Homo sapiens: one gene and its partners. The protein of the gene in region 1 interacts with the protein of each later gene in a pairwise test. Each region holds a gene or a part of one and is shown in the gene's direction. Other genes may lie near its edges. The genes, in order: SYCE1L, SCHIP1, BOLL and NOL4.

The links.
Region 2: the proteins of SYCE1L (region 1) and SCHIP1 interact in a two-hybrid assay, tested with the Homo sapiens proteins (one large-scale study listed by BioGRID).
Region 3: the proteins of SYCE1L (region 1) and BOLL interact in a two-hybrid assay, tested with the Homo sapiens proteins (one large-scale study listed by BioGRID).
Region 4: the proteins of SYCE1L (region 1) and NOL4 interact in a two-hybrid assay, tested with the Homo sapiens proteins (one large-scale study listed by BioGRID).

Annotation. Positions count from the first base shown.
Region 1 is NC_000016.10:77,205,867-77,209,463, forward strand, and holds part of SYCE1L (synaptonemal complex central element protein 1-like), read left to right. Parts: intron 1-574; coding exon 575-634; intron 635-2,343; coding exon 2,344-2,403; intron 2,404-2,598; coding exon 2,599-2,673; intron 2,674-3,230; coding exon 3,231-3,278; intron 3,279-3,550; coding exon 3,551-3,597. UniProt on the Homo sapiens protein: May be involved in meiosis.
Region 2 is NC_000003.12:159,895,050-159,897,954, forward strand, and holds the end of SCHIP1 (schwannomin-interacting protein 1), read left to right. Parts: intron 1-1,673; coding exon 1,674-1,725; 3' UTR 1,726-2,310; downstream 2,311-2,905. Other genes in the region: IQCJ-SCHIP1 readthrough transcript protein, read left to right, coding at 1,674-1,725.
Region 3 is NC_000002.12:197,775,296-197,778,892, reverse strand, and holds part of BOLL (protein boule-like), read left to right. Parts: intron 1-1,779; coding exon 1,780-1,834; intron 1,835-3,152; coding exon 3,153-3,228; intron 3,229-3,597. UniProt on the Homo sapiens protein: Probable RNA-binding protein, which may be required during spermatogenesis. May act by binding to the 3'-UTR of mRNAs and regulating their translation.
Region 4 is NC_000018.10:34,218,324-34,221,920, reverse strand, and holds part of NOL4 (nucleolar protein 4), read left to right. Parts: intron 1-3,597.

The DNA of each region.
Region 1 (3,597 bases):
GCAGTCCTCAAACTTAGCTGAAACAAACTCTCTATATTAAAAATAAAAATAAAAATCCTTTGAGCTGGAGCTGCAGGGTATAAAAAGAAAAAGAGAGAGGCTCATAATATCCAGTTGTCTTTTTTTGATGTTAGTAGCCATTAGTAACTATTACCTAGATCTATCAGTTCATTAAGAATTTATAAATTATGAGCTATTATTATTTCAAAGAAATTCATATGAAATCTTCCTGCCCTATTGTTCTGGTTAGAACTTCATAATGATCTTGAACAGCAGCATCAGCAAACATGCATTCTCTTCTCTCACCCCTGAGTTTCATTAAGGGGATGTTTGTGGTGGTGTTTTTTAACCCCTCAGGGAGAAGCTGACCCTTAGGGGTCCTGATTTATCTAGCACACACTATAAACCTCAAGGGCAAGAGACGGGGGCCCTGCTTCAGATGGAAACCTGTCTGTCATTCCATCCTTAGCCCCAGCCCACGGGTGTCTGCAGAGCCCACTGGGACTTCCTGCCTCCCTTCTCTCTCCCCTCTCACTCTCGCTGTGTCCTGTAATTTTGATTTTCCTTTCTACAGGGCAAGCCAAGTCTTTGAAGACTGAAGACTTGCTGGCAATGGTGATAAAGCTGCAGAAAGGTCATGTGTCTCTTTGTTTCTGAGCCTCAGCCTGGGGTTTCAAGTCAGAAAGACATGGTACAAATTCAGCCCCCTGAACTCACAACCTCAGGAAATTATCCCATTGCACTTTCTCCCTCTTATACAGTTTAATTCTTTGAACCAAGAATACAGTCCCACAGTTCAAAATTCAAGAAGTTTAAAGGAATGGAAAAACCAGTTCCCCCGCCATCCCTACTCCCTCCCCCCACACACCAGTCATCTATTTCCCTGACTCATGGGCAAGCAGCTATTGTTTTTCAATTCTTAAGTATCTTTCCAGAGATTTTTAAAAAATGCATTCATGGATGTATATTTTTTGTCCTCCCTTTTTACACACAAATGGAAATGCAGTTGGTTTTGCACCTTGCTTTGCTTTTTGCGGGAAACCTGGGAGCCAGTGTGCACCCAGTATCTACATCAGAGCTGAGGCAGTGCTGGCCAGAGGTGAGACCCCCAGCCCATTCTCATCTTAAAATACTATCACGTCAGTCTATTCCAAACAAAAGCAGCAGCCTCCCCGCTCCCATTCTGTGGCTGCCTGCAGAAGAAGTGCACTGGGACTGCTGCCTACGGTAAAATTAGGGAGAGAAATTGCAGGGCTAGAAATGCAGTGATCCAACCTGATCATTTCCAGTAAAACAAAGACCCCCAGAGATTTCTGTCAGTCATAATCAGCACCGTGGAGAGCACCCACTCTCCTGGAAATCACAGAAGCTGGAGTTGGTGACCTTGGAAAAATCCATGGTCTGAGTTTATTAACCCCAGAGTGTCTGAGGGGTCAGCAGTGAGATCTGGCAAGGGTTGGACAGCTTTTTGCCCCAGTTCCGTGTTGGCAACCTTGAAGCCAGAGAGGGATGAGAAGGAAGTCTTCTGCGTACAGAGCACTGAAACAGGGGCTATGAGAAGTTAGAGGTGATTCCCTAAAGGGATAGTGATCACCCTGTCACTGGGAAACTTGCAAGCTGCCACCAACAGTGTAAAAGCAGGGATTCCCCATTTCTCAGATGAGGCCAGTACCAGAGCCCAGACTGACAGAGTGACAACCCTTCCTGCCTGGATTTTGACAGGGCGGGGCAGATGGGACGTCTCCATTGGCTCACACCACACTCAGAGTTACATCTAAAGGCTTCCACGGTGGCCCAAGAGGCCCTAGTGATATCACTTCCCACTTCCCCCACCTTACTTTCTGCTACTCTCCACTTGCTCACTAGACCTGAGCCACACCAGCCCCTCACTGTTACTTTGGACACGTGCCTCACCCGCTCCTGCCACACTACAGGGAATTTGCACTTGTTCCCTCTGCCTTGTTGCACTCTGCCTGGAATGGGTCCCCCCTCCATACTCTTTACCCCCACAGAACTGCAGGACCTGCTTCCTTCTTCTCATCTGGGGCCTTTGCATATCCCCAGACATGCCTTTTACCCTTTTGCTCTTCAACACTTTGCCTCACTTTATTTCTCTTCACAGCAGTTACTGCCACCTGAATTGATTTATTTATCTTTGCTCAATGTCCATCTTGCCAACCCAGAATGCAAGCCCTTCAAGGGGCTCTGGCAGAGCTCAACACACAGCAGGCGCTCAATATATGCCGGTTAATTGATAGCAGCAGACACAGTGCTTCTCCGTCTGCCTTGGACAGCCAGACACCAGTCTTCTCTGGCTCACTCTTTCTTCCTTTCTTTCTTCAGAGGGAAGCCTGGAGCCACAGATAGAGGACCTGATTAGCCGGATTAATGATCTTCAGCAAGGTAAACTTGGGGACTTAGACTGGCCAGCTGGGGCGAGCAGGAAGTGACTGGATTTATAATGAATCCACCTCCTCATCTATAAAATCTAGGCCCCTCTAGGGTTGTTTGAAGATGACTGTGCAATGTCATATTTGCGAGAGAACAGCAAGGCTAGAGACTACACTCATACAGTGTCTTTTTCCCTTCTTGGCCCAGCAAAGAAGAAATCCAGTGAGGAACTGAGAGAGACCCACAGTCTCTGGGAGGCCCTGCATAGGGAATTAGACTCCTGTAAGTGGGGCCAAAAGAGGGACCCATCAACACTGCAGATGTTCCTGTGCATACCTCAGGGCCTTTGCACAGGCTGCTCCCTGGCCTACAATGCTCTTAGCTCACATAATCTGTATTGCCTTTCACTGTCTCATGTCATCTTTCAGCTCTCAGCTCAAATTTCACCCTGATAGGCCTATCTTGATGGTCTCATCTAAGAATAGAATCCCGCCCTCTCTTGGTCATTCTCACGCCCCTGGCTGATTTGTTTCTTAAGAGCCTTTATGTCCACCTGACACTGTGTGTGTATTTCTTTATAGCCATCTTTCTCCTCAGTGTAAACCTTGTACATTCTTCAGGGTCTTCACTCCTTCAACATTTACAAAGAATGTGGGCATAGAGGGGGAGAAGCTGGATCAGGATGGTCCTTCTGGGAGATGGTTGCAAGGGTGGCAAGAAGATACCTCACCTCTCCTAGGGCTGTACTACACCTTCTGTGTGGCTTTCCCCTTATATGAAGTTGCACTGGGGATGGCAATGGGGTGCCTGGAGGCAGAAAGTGTCATTGTGTTTTCCAGTGAATGGAGAGAAAGTGCACCTAGAGGAGGTCTTGGGCAAAAAGCAAGGTATTTACCAGTTGCTGTGTCTTCCTTATTCTACTCTTCCACCCCACAAAAGTCTATGCTCCTCAGAGCAGCCAGAGGAATCCCACTGAAACCTAAGGCAGGGTGCTTCCCTCTCTGCACAGATCTCTTCCTGGATTGCTACATCACTTGGAGTAAACACCCAAGTCCTCACAGTGCCCTCCAATGCCTGACATGATGTGGGGCCTATTACCTCTGGCCAACCCTGACTCCCCAAGAGCTCTCAAAGGGTCCCCTTGGTTCCTTCCCCACAGAGGCACTGAGGATCCTCCAGATGCACTGCCAAGAGAAGGAAAGCGAG
Region 2 (2,905 bases), on another chromosome or scaffold:
ATCAAGTTCACTGGGCATCAAAATATCTTGATCTGGATTTGCTTAAGTGAGGCATATGAGTTAGTCACGAAAATGTTTGATTCTTGTTACACATCAACAGGGCTATAAGATGGTCTGCTAAAGGGGACAGATTTTTTAAGGAATGGAGAGCTATCGATAAGGTACTTTTTCCTGAGTACCTTTATTGTTAGTTGAATAGTTCCATTTATTTATGGGCTGCTGAGTGTAGCAAGGACACTGTTGTCACTCCCCTGTTTCTGAAAGTATTTGTAGTTTGTCTTCCCTGATATGACACATTCTGCATAAAACCAGTGAGTTCAACTTGACATCACTGACTACCCAAGTCCAGGCAGCACACACAAACTATTCCTAAACGTTTGATTATAGCTGGAAACCACAGCCCTAGATGTTTTTATCTTGCCAAATTTATCATTTCCTAAAATCGTCCTTTAAAACCATTGTCTTTTGCAGCCTTCAAACCCCATCATTCTCTGAGAAGTGACCATTCAAGTGATGTCAACAGCTTGGCCACACTCCTCCCCCTCTGCCCCACTGTCTACCTCTGCCCCACTGTCTAGCTGCTTCACTGGCCTATTTTTGGGTTCACAGGTCATAATAGAGCTTGTTTTTGGTTTTGGTTGTTTGTTTGTTTGTTTGTTCTTTGAGACAGAGTTTCACTCTTGTCACCCAGGCTGGAGTGCAATGGCATGATCTTGGCTCACTGGAACCTCCACCTCCCGGGTTCAAGCAATTTTCCTGCCTCAGCCTCCTGAATAGCTGGGATTACAGGCGCACACCACCATGCCCAGCTAATTTTTGTATTTTTAGTAAAGGCAGGGTTTTGCCATGTTGGCCAGGCTGGTCTCAAACTCCTGACCTCAGGTGATCCACCAGCCTCAGCCTCCCAGAGTGCTGGAATTACAGGCGTGAGCCACTGGACCTGGCCCATAATAGAGCTTTATAAATAAGAAGACTCACCCTATCCTCACTGCCAAGACCATGCCCTTAGGATTAATTGGGGGGAAAAACATGCAAACGTGGAATATCTTTACATCCACAAAGACCTGCCATTTGTTAGACATTGGCTTTTGCAGGAGTGAATTAGATTTTTGGCTCCAGGTTTCTGTCAGGAGTCTTAGTTAATATCTAGGTCTGTGTCTGCATGGGTCTTTAGATAAAGTAGTCACTCAGTTACTCTTATCATAATACCATGTTTCGACTTTTGGCTTCGTGCTTATTTCCATCTGTTATTTCCTTATTTGCTATTTATTCCTTTCTTGTCTCATATTCCCCATGAGAACAGAGACCTCACTGTCTTGCTCACCATCAAATACCCATGGAAGACACATATTTAATATTTGTTGATAAAAGTATCCCAGATGTTTATTTATTTTCATTTTCAAACAGAACTTTTCTTCTTAAAAGTAGTAATGTCTAAAAGTCTCAGATTCATCCAGTGGCTTACTAAATAAAAGGAATCATACACAATATGTAAAAATTAAAGAGTTCAAATCAGAGTTCAAAGAGTTTGAATAAGGTACTTTTTCTTGATTCTAATCTATTTCACTGTCAGTAACTCTGAACTTCAGTTTGCAGGATGCTGTAGCTATTGATTGAAAAGCAGTTTGGATCTCTCTACATGATGCTAAATAATTGTATTAATTGTTTTACAGACATGCTGAAAGTCAGCAGAAGCACATGGCAGAGAAAATGCCTGCAAAGTGAAAAGAAGCCATTCAACCAGAGAACAAGCTAGAATTTATTTTGCTTCTGTGGTTGTAAAAATGCTGTTGCTAAAGGTGGCGCAGAAACAAATATCAGTGTTAGTCATTGATAATGTCTGAAGCTTAATGTCCAGTGATTGGCCTTTGCTTCTTAATTTATTTTAATTTTTTACTTGTGCCACTTAATATCAGGCATTTTAATAAAATATTGTTACAAAAAATGTACAGTACTGACACCACCACAAATCATGGTTAATAAAAGAGAGTAGTTTTAACTTTATTTTTATTTGTTTAGAGATTTTAAGTTGGAACAGTATTTTCCCATTGACTACTTTTCATTCTTCACTGTAGTTTTAAAGAAGAACTGTAAATGACGGTGCTATACAAGTCAAAAAATACATGCCTGCCTCGTAGTGAAGTTGTAGCTCTCCGTAATATGTATATTTTACTCAGTTTTCAACATTTTGTGAATGTTGACTACCTGAAGTTCCTTTTTAGATGTGCTATTAACATTCTGTTGGATTCAGAGGGTTCCTTGAAAGTTTTATGTATAAATATGTAAAATAAAAATTAAAACTTTGTTTCATATCATATGTCTTTTTGCTCACTAACAAGGCTTATACTGGCTTAACCCTTCTGCAACTAAATTCCCCACCAGGAAACTTTTATCAGTGAAAAAACAAATTGCTCCAGAGGACACACAAGTGGCAAATTGCCCAGAAAATTATGAGCGTGAGTGCGTGTCTGTGAGTATGTGTGTGTGAGAGAGTGATCCGAAGAACACCAAAGGTCAGTAGCATCAGAGCCTGCACTTCTATTATTGCTTAAAGAGATTCATCTGGAATTTTAGCACTTTAGTATTTAATAGCTGCTGGTCTTGTTAGGGCACTATGATTGTATCAAACTCCATTTAGTAAATTCACCACGTGAACAAATGATGTTTACACTTACTCTTTCTCCAAGGCCAATTGTTGCTATTTTCAAATTTTTAGCCATTCTGTTGGTCTCATGAAAGAAGATTCCAAGTCTAAAGCAGATTACAGACTGTTTCTTAATAAGTGGAGAGTTTCAGAAAATAGATTTAATTAGCTAATGTTCATGTAGTGATTAGGGAACCATAAACTAAAGCAAAGATGAACAATTCAACATTCCAGAGCCACCCACAAACCACCTGGTTTCAC
Region 3 (3,597 bases), on another chromosome or scaffold:
GTTCCATTTTCCAGCAGAGACCATCATGCCCTCTTCTTTCCTCCTACCTTTTGATTTCCTTGTGTGTGTGTGTGTGTGTGTGTGTGTATTTTGGAGGGAGGAGACACTGTAATATTTCTTAATTTGTTGAGAAGTTATTCTTGCATGGGTGGAGGGACCATTCAGTGGTAGGCAGCAAGCACTTAATGTAAGTAGCAGATGTACATTAGCTGAGGAATGAGAAGCAAAAGGAATCAGATTCTTTTGGAATTGTATCCCTGCTTTAGGCCATAGAGAGCTTTATTTGAAAACAGCTGACACCAAGAAATGTCTGTAGGTTGTGCCTCAGAGACCTAATTAGGGGACCAGTATGAGAAATATAATTCTAGTGAGAATGATTTTTAATTGCTATATCAATGATAATGAAAATTGAGAAGAAAGTAATAGACTGTGTCTTTAAATGTGTATAGAGCTGTTTCAGTGGAATGCTATGTGTACAAAGCCAAATTTCAGAAAGGAAAAAGATAGTTTACATAGTACACTCACTTAAGGAGTTGGACTGCAAAGTTAAAAGAAAATAGATAAGGCAGTAAAGTATTGTATTTACTTTCTTGAAAGAGAGACGAGACATACATATTTATAGGCATAAGAAAAGGGACCCATTGAGGTGGTATTGGTGAGAAACAACATTCGACAGATGGATATGCTGGAAGAGATGGGATTCTACAGAAAGGTTATTTATAAACAGATGAGATACTTCCTCAGAATGCCAAACAATATTAAGGTGAAGTGAGATTTACCTCTTTTGTTTGACTAACAGAATTTGCTATGTTTTGGTAATACCATTTTTTAATCATTGGAAAACATACATGGAAATGTAAATGTAAACTGTATTTTATGCCTTTTCCACTGGGTGGCGTGTGTGTTCTACCAAAAAAATAGCGTAAAACTAATTCCTTAACTTTTTAATGTTTGGGCAAATAGATAAAGAGAAATTCCTTTGTTTAAAAGAAGAAACTTTGTATATGATCCAGTAATTATGAATTGAAGAAAATAGTGAAGATATTTAGCATTACTCAGAAGAGTTTACTTAAGTTATCTAAATAGCAATTATGTTTTGAGAGATACATTTTTTCTTTCTTTTGTTACTTTTTTCTCTACCTATTGTGGCTTTTTGGACATGGAGCACATCATTTATGTGTATTTGTATCTTCAACATTATATGAATTGTGCTTGAAGTTAATTATGTATGAAAAACAGATGTGAAATCTGGGTTGTACATATTTTTAATTGATATTGTTTGGGAATATACTAATAATTACATTATCAGTTATATGTGCTAATAATAATAATTAAATAATACATTTACATTGTCATTCACCAATATAAGAAATTTTATTGTGTTGAAATTTTAAATTTTTTAGTTATTTTTCTACTTTGATTTCTCTTAGCCAAACTTCTATTAGTTTAAAAGGAGATTATTGCTCTGGATTGAAATTTATTGCATCCCCAATTTTTAAGCAACAGCATGAATCTCTTGTGCTTTTCTTTCCTGCATACAGCTGAGAGCTGAAGCTGTTTCAAGATCTCAGGGGTTTTTTTTCTTTTAGTTCCTGACTAAAAGTGACAGTGTTAGGCTGTGAATGATTCTTCTAAGATTCCCATGCTAGTGCAGCATAGAAACATGCCTACTCCTACAGTGGCCGATGATTTAAAAACAAAATTTTTAAACATTTTAATATAATTAATATAACATTCTAAGAAAATGATTAATTAGTAATAATTAATGCATTTATTTAGGTATGGTTTCGTCACTTTTGAAACACAAGAAGATGCACAAAAAATTTTACAAGAGGTATGATCTTTTGGTGTATTTAACTTCATTTCTGGAAATTTTGTATTTGAAACTAATCTTTTCGGGGTTCAAATACAATAATCAACTGCTTTTTAAAAAAGGTTTGCATCTTAAGATTGGCATTGGTCTCTAGGAAACTTAATCTGCAGAAGAGCAAATTCCAAAATCACTACAAGTATGGTTGTGAAACTGTAATATAATGTTTCGCTTTATTTACTTAAATTAAGAACTTGGGGATATATCTTTTGCGAAGTGTTAATAGCATTTTGAATGTTTAAAAAACACTACAAATGTGGATTCCAACAGTGAGGTTATCTGAGATGATTTCCCTCCTGTGAAAAACATTATATAAACTAAGAATATTCACAGAAAAAAAGCCTATAGCCAGCAATTCAGTGTAATAACTTTAAGTTAAGGCAAATATAACATTTAACTTTTTTAGAAAAAAAGTAGAATTTGAATTGTATGTTATTAAAATCAAATACAGTCAATTCTTGTTATTTGTGGCAGTTATGTTCTCTAACATTGCTAGGAACACTGAATTAGCAAATGCTGAACTCCTCTTTCTAGGGGAAGTACAAGGTAATGTTCCCAAGAACCTCTGGTCACAATATTGCCATCAACCTATCAATATATAACCTTGTTTTATATGGTTTTCCATTTAAAGGCATCATATATAACAGATTACTGGTTCATTAACATTGAAGCCATGGCCAATAGCACTATAATTCATGCTTGAATTAAGCACATCTAATATATATATTCTCCATAATGCCTATGACAGTCTTCTTGTGCTAGCCAGCACTTCAACAATACACATGGGGGCCATTTTAAATAGCCAAATCACCAACAAAAAGCACAAAAATGGAGAAAACATGGCACTAAATAGAAAGCTCTCTCTTAGAGTATGAGCACTGGAACAAGAAGAAAGAATATCGCCTTATTTGACCTCAACTGGGAGCATGCGCATCAGGCTACTCAAATTTTCCGCCGCTCTTCACGTGTCCACTAATAACCTCAAAATTGCCACAAATATTAATTTTAGGATTACAAGTAAATTTTAGCAAGTAGGCAAATTCACAAATACAGAATCCATGAGTAATGAGGATTGACTGTATTACAAATGGAGAAAATGGGGAATTGCGGTCAGACCCAGATCTATTTCAGTCTGAAGACGGCTCTTTCCCACTATTCCTTGCTGCTTTGAAAGAATATTATAGTCTGAATTTTTGAAATTCTTTCTAACTAGTTTTTCCTTATTGATTTTATAAATAATAGTGCTAAAATAATAAAATAATTTCTTTTTTCTTTATTTTAGGCTGAAAAACTTAATTATAAGGATAAGAAGCTGAACATTGGTCCAGCAATAAGAAAACAACAAGTAGGGATCCCTCGTATGTATTGAGAACTAATGTATTTTTAAATATTTTTGCATGGTTCTTTTTTGAAATATAAGACTTTTTATAGAACTTTATTAAAAGATCATGTTTCTTTCATCTAATAAAGTTATTTTAGCAAAGTTGGTGGAAAAACTGAATATTTTTGCCACAAAATAATATATCTCAATTTTTTTGGCTGGGAAAAAATTTATATACATAAAGATGCTTAAGTATATTCCATGTAGTTACATCATTAAAGGAAAAAAAATCTTTCGTGATGAAAATATCATTTAATATAGCAAAAGTAATTAGAAGTAATTTAATAATTTAGACTTACTAATGAGAAAAATTTTAATTAGAAACTAATTTAAAATTAATCAGAGT
Region 4 (3,597 bases), on another chromosome or scaffold:
TCCTGTACTGGCAACTGTTTCCCGGTGCAGTATTCCTGGAGGATGCTAGAAAGGAGACGCTTTGAAAGCTATTCTATCTCTAATGGAGGTATATTATATTGAATTGAAAATATGTGCATGAAAAGTTTTTTTTAAAGCATTATTTGGAAGGGTCTTTTAGGTTTGGAAATCAGTTTATGGTTTCCTGAGATTAATTAGAAATAGTTGTTTGAAGGATGTATATTTATTTTAGAATTTATATAGAAATTGGGAACCAAAAGTAAAAGTGAAATGGAAACACATATAAAAGTTCTGTGGTGGTTTTTTTTTTTTTTTTAACAATGTACTATTGTTGGGAGATTTCTAAGAGTTGGACCTATAAAGGTGTCTTCTCCTTTAGCATGTGGCACTACTAAAGACAATGGTGAGATTATTGTCTGGCTTTCCTAAATAATGAGGACTAGATTGGCATGATTTAGAACTGAGGTTTATTTACATCTGGATGAGCCAGAAATCTGATATACAGAATGAAGTGCTTTGATTAATTTGTATTGGGAATAATATCAAGAAATGATGTAGAAAAATAATTTATTGTTAGAATTCAAAACATAAACATGCATTTTCCTTTGGACAAAACTGAGCTAACTGAATGGATAAAATCATTTAAGATATCTTTACTTAAGGTATTATTTCATAATATCATGTATGTTTTAAAGAAACACTGTTAGTTGGGAAGTTTATTTTTCATTCCTTTTATGTTAAACTTAGGTCCCTCTAACTGTCAGATAGCTTCACGTGGATATTGGTACAATGAGTTTATACTCATATGGATTTGACTACACCCACTATATGTGTTAACATATGTGTCCTTTTAAAGGATTGACTATTTTAAATAACATAAATTCTGAACAATTTTAGAGATACTAAGATCATCATAAATGTCAGTTATTCAAACTAGCATTCACGCATTCATATACCACTATTTTCAGTCAAAAATTTATGCAGAATAGCTAAAGAATTACTGCTAAGACATCTAGTATAGAGTGACAACTTCAGGGATAATATTAAAGTAACACGTGTTTATTCAGTAAAGATTCCATATATTTATGGGAGAGAATATAATTCATCAGGTGATTGTTAGATAATGGTTCTCATGTAGTATTTAAGAGCTCTGCTTTTCATTCAAGCCTGTTTTGAAATATTGAAGAGGTTTTTAATTTATGAACTCGTCTATTGCTCTTTATAAAATTTTTATACTGCTCCCGACATAGAATTATAGGCTCCTCCTTCTCTGAGAGACAGCCAATCATCATTTCAATGAGTTAAAAAATAAAGGATCCCCTTTTATCATGTGTTTCCCTACATTTCAAATTATTCCTTCCTTAATGATACATTGATTTTTCTTTCCGATGGTAGGAGTACAGTCACCAAGAAGACAAAAATATATTTTCTCTTAATTCCAAGGCATATATTGATCAAAATAAAATACTGTATTTGAATGGTATTTTCGTGCAGACTAAGAATCATTCTTAGCTGCTTGAGGTTTGAGGGTTCACGGCTGGCTTTGCTGTCAGTAAGAGATGCTTTGCTCCTGATGTTGCAGTAATCCACTGCTGCTGATAATTAGACATCATTACTACTGCGAAAAGGGAAAGAGAAAAGGGGAGAGGACAGGCTGAGGCTAATTATCTACTTTAGTTTAATGAAAGAAAGAGAGACTGATGGCACCTGGGAGGTTATACTAGAACAGAGTAGACACACCACATAGACTTAATTGAAACAAGACTATCTTTAAGTCTCATAGTTAAAGAAGCTTGGTTCTACTCTTATTTTCCCAAAAGAAATATAGCTTTCCAACTACTCTTCCCCCTAAAGCCTAAACTTAACTGATGATAAAATCGAGCAAGTTACAACTGACTTAAAATAAAAATATTGACTACTGGAAAGGATAAATATGTCCTTTAATATTTGTCCTGGTCATGTCTAAACCTGAGGGGACATATCTGCCACTGATGTTTAGACTGCTTTTTGATGGAGTAGATACTGTTTGGTCACCAAGCAACAACATCCGGCAACTCAGCCATTTTAGGTCTGGTGTGGGACCTGTGCTTTTGCGAGCCCGCCTGCACTGCACACTCACGCGCACGCGCATATGCAGTTTGTTGAGCAACCCATCTGCTTTTTAGATAGTACCACTGTTATTTTTATACATTCTTTCATTAAAAGTGTCAGAAATTTAGAAGAATGAAATGATGAATGACTTAAAACAGTTCCGAAAACGATATAGCAAATGGTTGACATTGATTACATCCAACTTTTAAGCAGCGATAGTTTTAAATTCACTTAACTATGGTAACTCTGTTTTACACATTTGGTAGTTCCAGTGTAGTTTGTTTTTAGAAGCTTTTGATCCTGATTAACGTTTTCTGGCAACAATTAGTGGAAACATCACACTTGCAGTTTAAACTACCAGAACACATTATACCATTTGATATTGTGAATGGTAAACTTAGAAAAGGAGAAAATTTATTAAACGCTCTTTTTAAAAAGTCCTCTGCATTGTATAAAACATTAGGAATTTGGTAAGCTCATGTTTTTGTCTTTCAGTATCAAGCAAAGAAAGTAATGAATATGAATATTGAAACTGTATAATCAAAAGATGTAATACTTTTCTTAACCTATATTTGTAGGAACAGACACAAAGGTCTAAATTATGCCTTTCTTATATATATTTCTTTCTTATATTTATTCCAATACAGGTCTTAAATGAATTTCCATCCAGAAAGGAAAATGCATTATCTTTAGTTGTGCTATTTACAAATGATGATTTATTCAGTTCTGCAATCTGTAGCCTCAGATTTCATATTGTTCTTGCTGTGCATACTACTAATTGATTACTGTACAGTGATTATAATGAATATTCATGGACTGACTCATAAACAGTAACTGTTTTTGTTATTTTTCTGACTGTGGTTTTGGTCATAAATCCTTTATGCTACATCAGAGTGAAAGAAATAATACCCCATGAGGAGTCCTGTATACCTTTCCACCTGGCCTAACTTTATGCCTAAGGCACCTATATTAGGCCTTGATCTGGAATCTGCTACAGACCCAGTTATTTATCATGATACTTTGTATCTATGACACAAAGACAAATCATCATAGTGGTCACTGAGATGGAAGCACATTTTTGCTTCTATAGTGGACATTGCTGTTGATAGCCCATGCATTTTTCTTTTCATTAAAGTACTTTGGGAGATCCTGTAGCATAGGATTTGGGGGTCAAATAGATCCCGAGAATGAATATCAGCAATGTGGCTTATTAGCTGACTTAGTGATTCTTTGTGGAGTTGTGAAGAATAAATCATCTATGACAAGTCCCCAGCATAGGTCAGCTCGCAGGGAACAGTGGGGACCAGTAGTAAAGGCCATTCTGGCTTGAGTATTAAGGGGCAGGAGATTTCCTCTGAATATAAAGAGGAAATATGACCCTGTTCGTGTATGAAGACTATCCCACACTTATTTCTTGAGATACCAGTTTTTTATTTTTCCGTTGGTTCTTCCTTGTCCTATTAGTAGCCACAATAGGGAGATGGGGCAAGATTTGGCACTCGTATA